Regions from separate parts of the Homo sapiens genome. Here region 1 is linked to region 2. Evidence: fine-mapped expression QTL. A gene starts in region 2. The other region holds a variant in brackets. All regions are shown on one strand. Distances are between the middles of the regions. Region 1 holds the start of LINC01260 (long intergenic non-protein coding RNA 1260). Region 2 holds the start of ADA (adenosine deaminase).

Region 1 (8,324 bases), 22 kb after region 2:
AAAGATTTTTTTGTTTACCTTTTGAGTAAACTGCTGCTAAAAAAAAAAAAAAGGAGAAAAGAAACGGGGGAGAGGGAGAGACATTCTGTTGGTCTCAAGTTGTCTTTTTCAGGTCTTTTGTGTCAGGCCTCTGAGCCCAAGCTAAGCCGTCATATCCCCTGTGACCTGCATGTATACATCCAGATGGCCTGAAGCAACTGAAGATCCACAAAAGAAGTGAAAATAGCCTTAACTGATGACCTTTCACCATTGTGATTTGTTTCTGCCCCACCCTAACTGATCAATGTACTTTATAATCTCCCCCCACTTAAGAAAGTTCTTTGTAATCTCCCCCACCCTTAAGAAAGTTCTTTGTAATTCTCCCCACCCTTGAGAATGTACTTTGTGAGATCCACCCGCTGCCCACAAAACATTGCTCCTAACTCCACTGCCTATCCCAAAACCTGTAAGAACTAATGATAATCCCACCACCCTTTGCTGACTCTCTTTTCGGACTCAGCCCGCCTGCATCCAGGTGAAATAAACAGCCTTGTTGCTCACACAAAGCCTGTTTGGTGGTCTCTTCACACAGATGCGTGTGACATTTGGTGCTGAAGACCCGGGTCAGAGGGACTCCTTCGGGAGACCAGTCCCCTGTCCTCACCCTCACTCCGTGAAGAGATCCACTTACGACCTCGGGTCCTCAGATCAACCAGCCCAAGGAACATCTCACCAATTTCAAATTGGGTAAGTGGTCTTTTCACTCTCTTCTCCAGCCTCTCTTGCTACCCTTCAATCTCTCTGTCCTTCCAATTCCAGTTCTTTTTCCTCTCCAGTAGAGACAAAGGAGACACATTTTATCCGTGAACCCAAAACTCCAGGGCCGGTCACAGACTCAGGAAGACAGTCTTCCCTTGCCATTTAATCACTGCGGGGACGCCTGCCTGATTATTCACCCACATTCCATTGGTGTCCGATCACCGCAGGGACGCCTGCTTTGGTCATTCACCCACATTCCCTTGGTGGCAAGTCAATTGCGGGGACGCCTGCTTTGGCTGCTCACCCACATTGCAGCCCAGGGCTGCTCCCCACCCCCTTCTCCATATCTCTACCCTTCTCTTTAAACTTGCCTCCTTCACTATGGGCAAACTTCCACCCTCCATTCCTCCTTCTTCTCCCTTAGCCTATGTTCTCAAGAACTTAAAACCTCTTCAACTCTCACCTGACCTAAAATCTAAGCATCTTATTTTCTTCTGCAACACCACTTGGCCCCAATACAAACTAACAATGGTTCTAAATGGCCAGAAAATGGCACTTTTCATTTCTCCGTCCTACAAGACCTAGATAATTTTTGTTGAAAAATGGGCAAATGGTCTGAGGTGTCTTACGTCCAGGCATTTTTCACACTTCGTTCCCTCCCTAGTCTCTGTTCCCAATGCGACTCGTCCCAAATCCTCCTTCTTTCCCTCCCACCTGTCCCTTCAGTCCCAACCCCAAGCGTCGCTGAGTCTTGTGAATCTTCCTTTTCTACTGAACCATCTGACGTCTCACCTTCTTCCCAGACTGCTCCTCCTCAGCTCGCTCCCCACCAGGCTGAATCAGCCTCCAACTCTTCTTCAGCCTCTGCTCCCACATCCTATAACCCTTCTATTACCCGCCCTCCCCACACCCAGTCTGGTTTTCAGTTTCGTTCTGCGGCTAGCTCTCCCCCACCTGCCCAACAATTTCCTCTTAGAGAGGTGGCTGGAGCTGAAGGCATAGTCAGGGTACATGTGCCTTTTTCTCTATCAGACCTTTCCCAAATCAGCCAGCATTTAGGCTCTTTCTCATCAGACCCCACTAAATATATACAGGAATCCCGATATCTAACTCTGTCCTACAGTTTAACCTGGAGTGACTGAAATGTCATCCTGACTTCTACCCTCTCCCCAGATGAACGGGAAAGAGTTTTTTCTCTAGCCCAATCTCACGCTGATAACCGCCGGCTTCATGAACCTGACCTCCAGGAAGGCAGTAGAGCAGTTCCCCGAGAGGACCCCCAATGGAACTATCAGGCAGATTCCCCAGGTATGGCTAGGCGAGATTACATGGTTTCCTGCCTAGTTGAAGGGCTTAAAAAGGCAGCTTACAAAGCTGTTAATTATGACAAACTTAGAGAAACTACCCAAGGTAAAGACGAAAACCCAGCTCAGTTCATGGCCCGCTCGGCAGCAACCCTTACACACTTTACCGCCCTAGACCCAGAGGGGCCAGAAGGCCGCCTTATTCTTAATATGCATTTTATCACCCAGCTCCTGACATTAGAAAAAAGCTTTAAAAATTGGAATCCGGCCCTCAAACCCCACAACACGAATTAATCAACCTCCCCTTCAAAGTGTACAATAATACAGAGGAGGTAGCCAGGCAGCAACGCATTTCTGAGTTACAGCTGCTCGCCTCCGCTGTAAGACAGCCCACAACCACGTCTCCAGCATACAAGAACTTCAGAACATCCAAGCCACAGCTCCCAGGGGCTCCTTCAAAACATCCTCGTGGACCTTGCTTCAAATGCTAAAAGCCTGGCCACTGGGCCTCAGAATGCCCGCAGCCCGGGATTCCTCCTAAGCCGTGCCCTGTCTGTGCGGGCCCCCGCTGGAGGTCGGACTGTCCGACTCACATCACTGCCACTCCTAAAGCCCCTGGAGCCCAAACCCTATGTTCCTTGGCCGACTCCTTCCCAGATCTCCTCGGCTTAGCAGCTGAAGACTGACGTAGCCCGATCGCCTCAGAAGCCTCCTGGACCATCACAGACGCTGAGCTTCGGGTAACTCTTAAAGTGGAGGGTAAGTCCATCCCGTTTAATCGATATGGGGGCTACCCACTCCACATTATCTTCTTTTCAAGGGCCTGTTTCCCTCGCCCCCATAACTGTTGTGGGTATTGATGGCCAAGCTTCAAAACCCCTTAAAACTCCCCCACTCTGGTGCCAACTTGGACAACGTTCTTTTATGCACTCTTTTTCAGTTATCCCCACCTGCCCAGCTTCCTTATTAGGCTGAGACATTTTAACCAAATTATCTGCTTCCCTGATTATTCCTGTACTACAGCCACATCTCATTGCCCCCTTCTTCCCAACCCAAAGCCTCCTTTGGGTCTTCCTCTCATATCCCCCGACCTTAACCCACAAATATGGGACACCTCCACTCCCTCCCTGGCAACCAATCACATGCCCATTACTATCCCATTAAAACCTAATCACGCTTACCCCACTCAATGCCAGTATCACATCCCACAACAGGCTTTAAGGGGATTAAATCCTGTTATCACTTGCCTGCTACAGCATGGGCTTCTAAAACCTATAAACTCTCCTTACAATTCTCCCATTTTACCTGTTCAAAAACCGGACAAGTCTTACAGGTTAGTTCAGGATCTGTGCCTTATCAACCAAATTGTTTTGCCTATCCACCCTGTGGTGCCCAACCCGTACGCTCTTTTGTCCTCAATATCTTCCTCCACAACTCACTATTCCATTCTTGATCTTTAAAATGCTTTTTTTCACTATTCTCCTACACCCCTTGTCCCAGCCTCTCTTTGCTTTTACCTGGACCGATCCTGACACCCATCAGTCCCAGCAGCTTACCTGGGCTGTACTGCCGCAAGGCTTCAGGGCCAGCCCTCATTACTTCAGCCAAGCTCTTTCTTATGATTTACTTTCTTTCCACCCCTCTGCTTCTTGCCTTATTCAATATATTGATGACCTTCTACTTTGTAGCCCCTCCTTTGAATCTTCTCAACAAGACACCCTCCTGCTCCTTCAACATTTATTCTCCAAGGGATATTGGGTATCCCTGTCCAAAGCTCAAATTTCTTCTCCATCCATTACCTACCTCAGCATAATTCTTCATAACAACACATGCGCTCTCCCTGCGGATCGTGTCCGACTGATCTCTCAAACCCCAGGCCCTTCTACAAAACAACAACTCCTTTACTTCCTGGGCGTGGTTGGATACTTTTGTCTTTGGATACCTGGTTTTGCCATCCTAACAAAACCATTGTATAAACTCACAAAAGGAAACCTAGCTGACTCCATAGATTCTCAATCCTTTCCCCACTCCTCTTTCTGTTCCTTGAAGACAGTTTTAGAGACTGCTCCCACACTAGCTCTCCCTGGCTCATCTCAACCCTTTTCATTACACGCAGCCGAAGTGTAGGGCTGTGCAGTTGGAATTCGTACACAAGGACTGGGACCGCACCCTATAGGCTTTTTGTCCAAACAACTTGACCTTACTGTTTTAGGCTGGCTATCATGTCTCCATGCGGTGGCCGCTGCTGCCCTAATACTTTTGGAGGCCCTCAAAATCACAAACTATGCTCAACTCACTCTCTACAGTTCTTATAACTTCCAAAATCTATTTTCTTCCTCACACCTGACACATATACTGTCTGCTCCCCGGCTCCTTCAGCTGTACTCACTCTTTGTTGAGTCTCCCACAGTTACCATTGTTCCTGGCCCGGACTTCAATCCAGCCTCCCACATTATTCCTGATACCACACGTGACCCCCATGACTGTATCTCTATGATACACCTGACATTCACTCTATTTCCCCACATTTCCTTCTTTCCTGTTCCTCACCCTGATCACACCTGGTATATTGATGGCAGTTCCACTAGGCCTAATCGCCACACACCAGCAAAGGCAGGCTATGCTATAGTATCTTCCACATCTATCATTGAGGCTACCACTCTGC[C/G]CACCTCCACTACCTCTCAGCAAGCTGAACTCATTGCCTTAACTCGAGCCCTCACTCTTGCAAAGGAACTACGCACTACGCATCAATATTTATACTGACTCTAAATATGCCTTCCATATCCTGCACCACCATGGTGTTAAATGGGCTGAAAGAGGTTTCCTCACTACGCAAGGGTCCTCCATCATTATTGCCTCTTTAATAAAAACTCTTCTCAAGGCCGCTTTACTTCCAAAGGAAACTGGAGTCATACACTGCAAGGGCCACCAAAAGGCATCAGATCCCATCGTTCAGGGCAACGCTTATGCTGATAAGGTAGCTAAAGAAAGAGCTAGCATTCCAACTTCTGTCCCTCACAGACAGTTTTTCTCCTCCTCATGGGTCACTCCCACCTACTCTCCTGCTGAAACTTCCACCTATCAATATCTTCCCACACAAGGCAAATGGTTCTTGGACCAAGAAAAATATCTCCTTCCAGCCTCACAGGCCCATTCTATTCTGTCATCATTTCATAACCTCTTCCATGTAGGTTACAAGCCGCTAGCCCGACTCTTAGAACCTCTCATTTCCTTTCCATCATGGAAATCTATCCTCAAGGAAATCACTTCTCAGTGTTCCATCTGCTATTCTACTACTCCTCAGGGATTGTTCAGGCCCCCTCCCTTCCCTACACATCCAGCTTGGGGATTTGCCCCTGCCCAGGACTGGCAAATTGACTTTACTCACATGTCCCGAGTCAGGAAACTAAAATACCTCTTGGTCTAGGTAGACACTTTCACTGGATGGGTAGAGGCCTTTCCCACAGGGTCTGAGAAGGCCATCATGGTCATTTCTTCCCTTCTGTCAGACATAATTCCTCAGTTTGGCCTTCCCACCTCTATACAGTCTGATAACGGATTGGCCTTTATTAGTCAAATCACCCAAGCCGTTTCTCAGGCTCTTGGTATTCAGTAGAAACTTCATACCCCTTACCGTCCTCAATCTTCAGGAAAGATGGAACGGACTAATGGTCTTTTCAAGACACACCTCACCAAGCTCAGCCTCCAACTTAAAAAGGAGGACTCTGTCAAGGATACAGCCCAAAAACTCAACAACCAAGCAAGTAATTACGCTGAACAGCCTTGGGCACTCTCTAATTGGATGTCCTGGGTCCTCCCACTTCTTAGTCCTTTAATACCTATTTCTCTCCTTTTATTCAGACCTTGTGTCTTTCATTTAGTTTCTCAATTCACACAAAACCGCATCCAGGCCATCACCAATAATTCTGTATGACAAATGCTCCTTCTAACAACCCCACAATACCACCCCTTACCCCAAAATCTTTCTTCAGTTGAATCTCTCCCACTGTAGGTTCCCATGCTGCCCCAATCCCACTCGAAGCAGCCCTGAGAAACATTGCCCATTATCTCTCCATACCAGCCCCAAAATTTTTCGCCACTCCAACACTTCACCACTATTTTGTTTTGCTTTTCTTATTAATATAAGAAGACAGGAATGTCAGGCCTCTGAGCCCAAGCTAAGCCATCATATCCCCTGTGACCTGCCTGTATACATCCAGATGGCCTGAAGCAACTGAAGATCCACAAAAGAAGTGAAAATAGCCTTAACTGATGACTTTCCACCATTGTGATTTGTTTCTGCCCCACCCTAACTGATCAATGTATTTTATAATCTCCCCCACCCTTAAGAAGGTTCTTTGTAACCCCCCCCCCGACCCTTAAGAAGGTTCTTTGTAATTCTCCCCACCCTTGAGAATGTACTTTGTGAGATCCAACCCCTGCCTGCAAAACATTGCTCCTAACTCCACCGCCTATCCCAAAACCTATAAGAACTAATAATAAACCCACCACCCTTTGCTGACTCTCTTTTCGGACTCAGCCCGCCTGCACCCAGGTGAAATAAACAGCTTTGTTGCTCACACAAAGCCTGTTTGGTGGTCTCTTCACACAGACGCACGTGACATTTTGATTGTTTGGAAAATTCAGTCTCCTCTCTATGAAAGAGTAAAAGTTTGCTTTTTGAAATATTTGAATCATCACTTTGGCTAGATGAATGACTACAATTTTAAACTCACTTTGCCAACACACTGACATTGGCAGAGTGCAAAGATGGCAAGAGGCTGGGTCCATGGTGACACTGTTAGGGAAACAGGAGCATAACAGAGTCAGGGTGACACCATTTTAAAATCAATTGTGGCTGGGCACAGTGGCTCATGCCTGTAATCCCAGCACTTTGGGAGGCTGAGGTGGGCGGATCACCTGAGGTCAGGAGTTCAAAGCCAGCCTGGCCAACATGGAGAAACCCCATCTCTATTAAAAGTACAACAATTAGTTGGGCATGATGGTGGGCACCTGTAATCCCAGCTACTTGAGAGGCTGAGGCAGGAGAATTGCTTGAGCCCGGGAGGCAGAGTTTGCAGTGAGCTGAGATCGTGTCACTGCACTCCAGCTTGGGTGACAGTGTGACACTCTGTCTCAAAAAATAAAATAAAATAATAAAATAATAAAATCAACTGCATCTTCAAACTAGCAAGGCACATTCCTTGGCAGTCACAACTCATGGCCATGATATGTTTTGGGTGAAGGAAGCGATTTAGTAATGCCTGCAAGGGCAAACTCCTATGGTGGCAGGGTGTCCAGATATCCTAATAGCACATAACAATATCTGCTTTTGAGATAGGTAAAGTCATGCTTTGAAGTATTTCCTCACTAAAATACCAAGGATAATTTTATTTAAATCAACAAAGCACTAAATTTTCTTTTTTCTTTTTTGAGATGCTCACTCTGTCGCCCAGGCTGGAGTGCAGTGGCACGATCTCGGCTCACTGCAAGCTCCACCTCCTGGGTTCACGCCATTCTCCTGCTTCAGCCTCCCAAGTAGCTGGGACTATAGGCGCCTGACACCATGCCTGGCTAATTTTTTGTATTTTTAGTAGAGACGGGGTTTCACCATGTTAGCCAGGATGGTCTTGATCTCCTGACCTCGTGATCCACCCGCCTTGGCCTCCCAAAGTGCTGGGATTACAGGTGTGAGCCACCACACCCGGCCTAAATTTTCTTTAAAAAAAAAAAATTATTGTATTTATGGCTGGGCACTGTGGCTCATGCCTGTAATTTTAGCACTTTGGGAGACTGAGGCAGGCGGATCACTTGAGGCCAGGAGTTTGAGACCAGCCTGGGCAACATGGCAAAATCCCATCCCTAATAAAAATACAAAAAAAAATTAGCTGAGCATGGTGGCACATGCCTGTAGTCCCAGCTACTTGGGAGGCTGAGGTGGGAGGATCACTTGAACCCGGGAGGCAGAGGTTGCAGTGAGCCAAGGTCGTGCCACTACTCTCCAGCCTGCACAACAGAAAGGACTCCATCTCCAAAAAAAAAAAAAAAAAAAGTATTTATTTATTTTTCATTTATTCCAGGCAGAAGAAACAGCAAATGCATAGGTCCTGAGGCAGGCATGCATTTGGCATGTTGGAAAACATGTGGCACTGGCCAGACCAAGCAAGGCCTTGGAGAACATGAAGAGCAGTCTGGCTTTTGCTCCAGTTGCCACAGAAGTCACTGGAAGAGGCCTCCTCTGAGATAAGACACTAAGAAAGCAGTGTCAGGCCAGTTAGACAG
Region 2 (8,324 bases):
CGAGACCAGCTGGCTAACGTGGTGAAACCCTGTCTCTACTAAAAATACAAAAATTAGCCGGGCGTGGTGGTGGACGCCTGTAATCCCAGCTACTCCGGAGGCTGAGGCAGAAGAATGGCTTGAACTCGGGAGGTGGAGGTTGTAGTGAGCCAGGATCACACCACTGCACTCCAGCCTGGGCAACAGAGTGAGACTGCGGCACACGCCTGTAGTCCCAGCTACTTGGGAGGCTGAGGCAGGAGGATCGCATGAACCCAGGAGGCAGAGGTTGCAGGGACCCAAAATCTTGCCACTGCACTCCAGCTTGGGCGACAGAGTGAGATTCTGGCAAAAAAGAAAAAGTCACTGAAGGCACCTGGTACCCAGGACTACTTCAAGGACAGCTATTGTTATGATTATTGTAACAGGCATGTGATCAGCACTGGCCTCCAGGATGCAGAATGCCTGAGTGCCTGGTGCCACCTGTGAACATAGGCTGATAAGGGCCACCCCTGCAACCCCCCTTTCCACTTCTTCCAGTGCCCAGCAGGTGCTAAGTCAAACCAGGTGGGGGTATGGGAGGCACACCCGACAGGGCAAACTTGACTTGGGCATCCCCTGACGATGACCCTGCATGGCAGGCACACTTGAATGGGTGTTCAGAGTTCTGAGCGAAGGAATCCAAGAGTGGCCAACCTGGAGATCCAGTCGTTATCTATGAGGAACATCTGAGCCCCACCCCATTCCCACGGGACACTGACCATACAGGGGTATAGGGACCGAGGCCCTTTGTTTTGGGTTAAATGAAGGTTACTAGGTGGAGATGGTTGGGAGAAGGTGTTAAATGAAAATGCTACATAAACTGCATGATTTGCAAGTGGTTGCGGTTCTTCTGCTCAGTCTGCCGCCACTGGACTCTCTTCCCTGTGTCTAAGCCCCCAGTAAAACCCCGTATCTTGTTTGCTACCTCTTCCAAAGAAGGTAGCCTCTTGAACCTGGTGCTATATCCATTGGAGTCAATAGGGGTCCCGCACAACAGAAGGCAGCTGCCTAGGGCCTTGCTAAGCAAAGTGTGTTCCTGGATCGTTGACATTAGCATTTCCTGGGAGCTGGTCAGCAGTGCAGCATCGCAGGCCCCAACCCGACCCACACAGAATCACAGTGTGAACATTAAAAGTCAGGCCACTTGAGTGCAGTTTGAAAAGCGCTGCCCTGCTCTGCTTTCTTCTAGCTGACCAGGTCCCAGGCCTCAGCTGGTGGCAGGTATGAGAAGCTGAAGGACACAGCAAAGGCTCCTGTCTCAGGAGGTTTGCACCTGGGGCACTGGCACCTCTATCCCCAAAGGCTTCTGCAGAGGTAGTTTAGGAAAGATGGTTAGAGGCATGGGATTTCGAAGCCAGCCTCCCTTGGACTCAAACCCCAGATTGGACATTTCCTAGCTGTGTGATCTTGGGCCTAGTTAACCTCTCTGTGCCTGGATTAAATAAAAAATGCAGATAATGTGTTTAGAACGGTGCCTGGCACAGAAACATCAACACTCCATTAGCTGCAGCTAGTAATGCTAATAATTATAACTGTCATCTGTCCCTCCCACAAGAGGGCAGGGAGCTGGCTCTGGTCACAGTGGCTCTGAGATTCACACTCCTTCCCACTTCTCCTGCCAGCTCACACAAGTTCCTCCTCACAATCATACAAGATTTGTCACGCCTCAAACACATGGCAGGTAACATTCTACCTTCACTCTCAAGCATCACCTTGTGGCCTTGGGACTCAGGACACGGGACACCCACATAAGCAGCTGATGTTCCATCCTCCAGGTGTGGACACTGAGGTCCCAATAGGGAAAATGATCTGCCAGCTTGAATCAGATGGGAGGACTGAGCAAGGCCAAAAAATGGGGATAATAATATGAGCCCCTCCCTTGATGGGCTGTTACAGAAGAACTGCAAGGATCCAATGGGTGTCTGCAACAAGTGCTCTAGAAGTGGGCCCTGCTGTTCTCTCCATAACTCCCAACATGTTCGCAATCAAGGAGCCTTTTTTTTTTTTTTTTTTTTTTTGAGACAGCGTCTCACTCTGTCACCCAGGCTGGAGTGCAATGGCGAGATCTCGGCTCACTGCAAGCTCCACCTCCTGGGTTTATGCCATTCTCCTGCCTCAGCCTTCTGCGTAGCTGGGACTACAGGCGCCCGCCACCATGCCCAGCTAATTTTTTATATTTTTAGTAGAAATGGGGTTTTGCCATGTTGGCCAGGCTGGTCTCGAACTCCTGGCCTCATGATCCACCCACCTTTGCCTCCCAAAGTGCTGGGATTATAGGCGTGAGCCACTGCACCCCGCCAATCAAAGAGCTTTGCTATTGCCATAGGATTCACATCAGGGTACAGTGGGTCCCCAGCCCAAGGGCAGAGGGAGCCCAGAGCATTTAATAAAAAGACTGCAAAGGGGAGGCGCCAATCATGGGCCCCAGCTCCAGTAAGACGTGAAGGAGGCAGGGGTGGGGGTAGGAGGGCTTGTACAGCACCTCAGTGCTTCCAGCTTCTGACGGGGAGTAGCTGAGCATTTTCCCTGGGCTGGGGGCATCAGTAGTGGGGGCCAGGCCTCACCCTCCTCAGAAGGTAGGTGGGCTCTCCACAGCCTGTCTCCCTCACTGACACATGCACACTCACTGGATTCTCACCGGCACTTTTGTGATAGCTGTCATCATCATTCACACCTATTTCTTTTCTTTTCTTTTTCTTCTCTTTTTTTTGAGACAGGGTCTCGCTCTGTCTCCCAGGCTGAAGTGCAGTGGCACCATCACACCTCACTGCAGCCTCAACCTCCTGGGCTCAAGCGATCCTCCCGCCTCAGCCTCCTGAGTAGCTGGGACTACGGGAGTGCACCACCACACACACTTCCCCTAACTTTTTTTATTTTTTGGAGAGACGGGGTCTAGTTTTGTTGTCCAGGCTAGTCTCAAACTCCTGGACTCAAATGATCCTCCCGCCTCAGCCTCACAAAGTGCTGGGATTACAGGCGTGAGCCAACCTCCTGGGCCACTCACACCTATTTCTTAGAAGGGTAAGTTGAGGCTGACTGCAGCTGACTCCTTCCCCAACCACTCTCACACCCTACTGGCTGACTCACCCTGCTTGGCAGACTCCTGGGCCCCTCCTCTCGGACTCTGCGACAGGCCAAGGGGGTCCAGACCCTCCCTGACCCCAACAGTCCCAAGACGCCACAGCTGGTGGGCGGAGAAACAAGGGGATTCTCCCCTGGGGCCAGTGGCCATGGCTTGGCCTCGAGTGAACCCTGCTAGGGCCCCAAACCCAGGGCCTACCTAGCTCCTGTTCTTCCCGCGCGGGGGAAGGGGGGTGCTCTGCTCCCCTCCCTCCCCTTTCTGGCAGGGCTCACGGTTCTTCCCCGGGGCGCATCCACAAACCTGAGCTCCTTGGCGCTCACCACCATAACGCTGGCGTACAAAGCTGCTTCCATTCACTGAGCACTCAGTAGGCGCCGGGCACAGCACTAGGTGCCTATCCGGCGTAGACATCGGGCCTGATCATACAGCTGAGCTTCAGAGACCTCAAGTCCCTGCCCAGGCCCACACAGCGCTCAGCGGTGCTAGGATGCCCACTTGACAGACAGCGAAACTGAGACCCAGAGGGGTCAAGTCAGGGGCAGAAGCAGACTCTGGAGGCCTCCGGGTTCTGGACCTTCTCTGCCCCATTGTCCCTGATTAGCCCGCAAGCAAGCCACGGCCTAAGCCGAAGGAAGAACTCGCCTGCAGGAGCCCCCGTTCGTTCCCAGGGTTTGGACGCCCCGGGCTGGGCCCCGCTAAGCCCCTCGGGCCGCCCAGGCGCCGGACCCCCGTCCCCGGAGCCCCCGCGCGCGCTCACTTTGGGCTTGTCGAAGGCGGGCGTCTGGGCCATGGTGCCCTCGTGCGCCCCGGCGCTGCTCCCTCCGCCGCCGCTCGGTGGGTCTCTGCCGGCTCGGTGGCCGCTCGGCTTTCCCTGGGGCCAGCGGTGGCCGCGGCCGGCCACGCTCTTCTTAACGGGCCGGGCCCCGCCTCCCGCCCCGCCCGCCGCCGTTCCCGGGGCCCGCCCTCTCGCCGGAGCCCCCGCCCCGCCCGCCGGCCTGGATCGCGCATTTCCTGGAATTCTGGACCCGGCGTCCTCGCCCGCCGACCCGAAAACTACGGCCCCGCGGCGCCCGACCGGACCCACCTGTGGGCGCGCGCTCCAGCCGCCTCGCTGGGCGCTGCCTTCCCCCCGGCTCCTCCAGCAACTTTCAAGCGTCCCCCTGCAGTCTGGGCGCTGCTGTGCGCCAGGCCCAAGCTAGAAGCGGGGACCCCGGGAGCATCGCAAGCCTCGAGCGGCGTGCCTTCCACCGGATAGACGGACGCTCGTCGCAGAAACACACACCATAATTGTATAGTTAAGGAACTTTCGAGGGGGGCCAGCCGTGGCCTGCAGAACCTGCAGGAGTTCATCAGGGGTGGGTGGGGGTGGAGAGGACATTCTACGTGAGAGACTCCAGGGAGCTGGGAGTGAAAGGAGGCGAGGAAGGCTGGAGCTCGGAGGGAGGGAGAACACAGACAGTCCCCTCCTGGGCATTCACCTTTAAGAAACCCGCCCAGGCGCAGCCAGAGACCTGTGCAGAATGTTCACACCAGCGCTATTCCGAATAACAGGAACATTGGAAACACCCTCAAATGCCCCTCCACGGGCGAGTGGGCAAATAAACCGGAATATTCACACCATGAAACGTTAGACAGCAGTGAAACGGAATGAACTTCAGCCAGACAACAACAGAAACAATGTCTCAGAAACAATGTTGAGTGAAAAAAACTAAGTTGCGGAAAACTGCATACAATGGTGCAACTTTTAGAATGTGTAAAAGCAAAACCAAAAGTATGTATGTTTAGACACATGCATCGGTGGAAAAAATGTAAAGCAAGGGAAAGATGAGCATAGATACGAGAAGAGTGGTTATCTCAGGTGAAAGGGAAGGAGCCGGGAGGAGGTAAGGACGGAGGGAAATAACACGCGGGTACAGGTTATTTATTTATTTATTTATTTATTTATTTATTTATTTATTTATTTACTGAGACGGAGTTTCGCTCTTTCGCGGAGGCTGCAGTGAAGTGGCGCGATCTGGGCTCACTGCAACCTCTGCCCCTCTGGCCCGCCTCCTCCCCACCGCTCCCCCGCACCCCCAGCGTTTCAAGCGATTTTCCTGTCTCAGCCTCCCGAGTAGCTGGGATTATAGGCGCCCACAACCACGCCTGGCTAATTTTTGTTTTTTGTTTTTTTGTTTTTGTTTTTGTTTTTTTGAGATGGACTCTTGCTCTGTCGCCCAGGCTGGAGTGCAGTGGCGAAATCTCGGCTCACTGCAACCTCCACCTCCTGGATTTTAAGCAGTTCTCGGCCTCAGCGTCCCGAGTAGCTGGGATTACAGGCGCGTGGCACCGTGCCCTGCTAAGTTTTGGATTTGTAGTAGAGACGGGGTTTCACCATGTTGGCCAGGCTGGTCTCGAACACCTGACCTCACATGATCCACCCACCTCGGCTTCCCAAGGCGTGATTACAGGCATGAGCCACCACGCCTGGCCACACACAGGTTATTGATAATGTTCCAGTACTGGGGTGGATGGTAGCTTCATTTCATTTCATCATAAATAAATTAACAAACCCATAAACAAGGGGGAAAGAGAGAGTGGGAGAGTGGAGAGCAAGGGGCTAGAAGGTCTGATGGGAGCTGAATCCTGCCAGGGATGTGGGACCCAGCGATGGTGTGGGATTCCTAGGAAGTCAGTGGAGTGTTTTAAGTGGAGGCGAGACAAAATCACCCTTTTATTTGGAAAAAATATTCTCCAGCTACTGAAAGTGTGATCCAGGGATCATCAGCACCCACATCACCTGGGAGCTGACTACAAATGCAGACTTTCAGACCCCATCCCAGACCTACTGAAGTAGAATCTGTATTTTATACAAACAGGACCCCCAGGTGGTTCGCACCCACAGGGCACTTTGAGAAGCCTGGGCTCCCTGCTGTGAGGGGAGGGCATTACAGGGGGCCAGCGGGGGTGAGGGAGGACAGGATACCAGGAAGGAGGCAACTGCCATGGTCTGGGTAGGGCATAGTGATGTCAGTGGGGGAAGTGGAGAAACTCATATTCAAGCTGCATTTAGGGTGTAAAATCAGCTGGATTTGGGGTTTGGTTGTATGTGGGAGTGAGGGAGAGGGTGGCTGTATTAGTCCATTATTTTCATGCTACTGATGAAGACATACCCGAGCCTGGGCGCAGTGGTTCATGCCTGTAATCCCAGGACTTTGGGAGGCCAAGGCAGGAGGATCACCTGAGGTCGGGAGTTTGAGACCAGCCTGACCAACATGGTGAAACCCCGTCTCTACTAAAAAAAAAAAAAAAAATACAAAATTAGCCAGGCGTGGTGGTGTATGACTGTAATCCCAGCTACTCGGGAGGCTGAGGCAGGAGAATCGCTTGAACCTGGGAGGTGGAGGTTGTGGTGAGCCAAGATTACACCATTGCATTCCAGCCTGGGCAACAAGAGCGAAACTCCATCTCATGAAAAAAAAAAAAAAGACATACCTGAGACTGGGTAATTTACAAAAGAAAGAGGCTTTAATAGACTTACAGTTCCACAATGGTGGGGAGGCCTTGCAATCATGGCAGAAGGCAAAGGAGGAGCAAGTCACGTCTTACATGGATGGCAGTAGACAAAGAGAGAGCGCCTGCAGGGAAACTCCCATTTTTAAAACCATCAGATCTTGTGAGACTTATTTACTATCACAAGAACAGCATGGGAAAGACCATCCCCCATGATTCAATTATCTCCCGCCGAGTCTCTCCCACAACATGTAGGAATTATGGGAGCTACTAGATGAGATTTGGGTGAGGACACAAAGCCAAACCCTATCAGTGGGTCTCATACATTGTCAAAGCCAGGGGAGTTTTTTGTAAGATCCTTTCTTGGCTCTCTGTGTTACTCGGGTTCAATAATAGGGGCTGCCATTTACTGAGACAGGTTTGGAGCCAGGTACACTGGGAAGCACTTTATAAGCACCCATCCCATTTCATCTTTACAGTCATCCTCAGATGTAGGAGGTGTTCTCCTCATTTTACAGATGAGGACACTGAGGTTCAGATAGAGAGACAGCCTGCTTGGCTCATGGGTTGTAAGTGGCAAAACTGGGGTTTAAATTTGAATCTGACTCGAGAAACTTCACTCCCCACCTTATTGCCTCCCCAGCCTCTCATGACATTCAAGTCCCTCTTCAACATCAGTCCCACCACTTCCCACCACATTGCTGAAATGCCAATCAACCTAGATGAGTTGCTGGTTGCTTAAGGGTGACACAAATTATTTGCAATTCTTCACATTGCAAGATGGAGTCTAGGTTTCCTCCTCTTGGACCTGGGCTGGCCTGAGTGACTTGTTGGAGTAATAGAGCGTGATGGGAGCAAGCTTCCTGGATTTCCGAGCCTTGGTCATAAAGAAGCTTTGTGGTGTCCTTTGGGGCCTCTTGAACATTCTCTCTGGGAACCCAAGCTTCTAGAAGAGACCATCATGCTAAGAGAGTCCACATATGGCCATTCCAGTTGACAGTCCCACTGAGCCCAGGCTTCCACCATCCCTACGAAGACAGCAATCATGTTAGCGAAGCTGTGTTGGGCCATCCAGCCCAGCTGCCCACTGAAAACCAGGCTTTGGTCAATGCCATGTGGGACAGAAGAATTACCCAAGTAAGCCCAGCCCAAATTCCTGACCTATAGTATTGAGATATGTAATGAAATGGATGTTATTTTAAGCCATTGTGTTTTAGGGGGAGATTGTCACACAGCAGTAGGTAACAGGAATGCTTGCTTCTACCTGCCCCAGCCCTCCAGCCTCTGCACCTTAGTCACTTCCATCCTGACACCTGGAAAACCCTTTACCCAGATCCTAGACTATCAAAATTCTGCATTCCAAATGGGTCAGATCCAAAGGGCCAGGCTGCGTGATGCAGTTCTTCTGTTTGCCCCTGCAGGTGCACTCTCCACCCTTCTGCACGCTGCTCTGCTCCTCTGTGTCCGGCAGCCATGCTGCTGTGGGTGAGACCAATGGGCTCTCCTGCCCTCTGGCTCTGGTTGGGTTTTGTCAACAGGGAGCACCAGCAGGAGAACAGCAGATGAGAGGAGAGAGGTCAGGATATTCATTCCCCCTTTCCCTCGGTGCACAGTCACTGGGCTGACTGTGTCTCTCTACCAAGGCCACATCTCCTGTCAGTCCTCCTGGCCCACCTCTCCATACCCTCCCCATTCCAGATTCCCTCTTGCCTATTGATTGATTGATTGA

What was found. PIP is the estimated chance that this variant, and not a neighbour inherited with it, causes the effect.
Region 1: its variant is fine-mapped to the expression of ADA in blood mononuclear cells (TOPMed, PIP above 0.99).

What each region holds. Positions count from the first base shown.
Region 1 is chr20:44,670,109-44,678,432 of GRCh38, forward strand. LINC01260 (long intergenic non-protein coding RNA 1260) reads right to left here and starts at 1,631. Exons shown (of 5, transcript NR_034104.1): 1 at 1,531-1,631. RefSeq lists enhancers at 370-871, 872-1,371, 7,859-8,324. The variant C/G (reference allele first, on the strand shown) is at 4,708.
Region 2 is chr20:44,647,715-44,656,038 of GRCh38, forward strand. It overlaps ADA (adenosine deaminase), which reads right to left and starts at 3,985. Exons shown (of 12, transcript NM_000022.4): 1 at 3,861-3,985. The coding sequence starts at 3,893. RefSeq lists silencers at 153-321, 3,794-4,183 and enhancers at 344-844, 3,434-3,543, 3,774-4,757.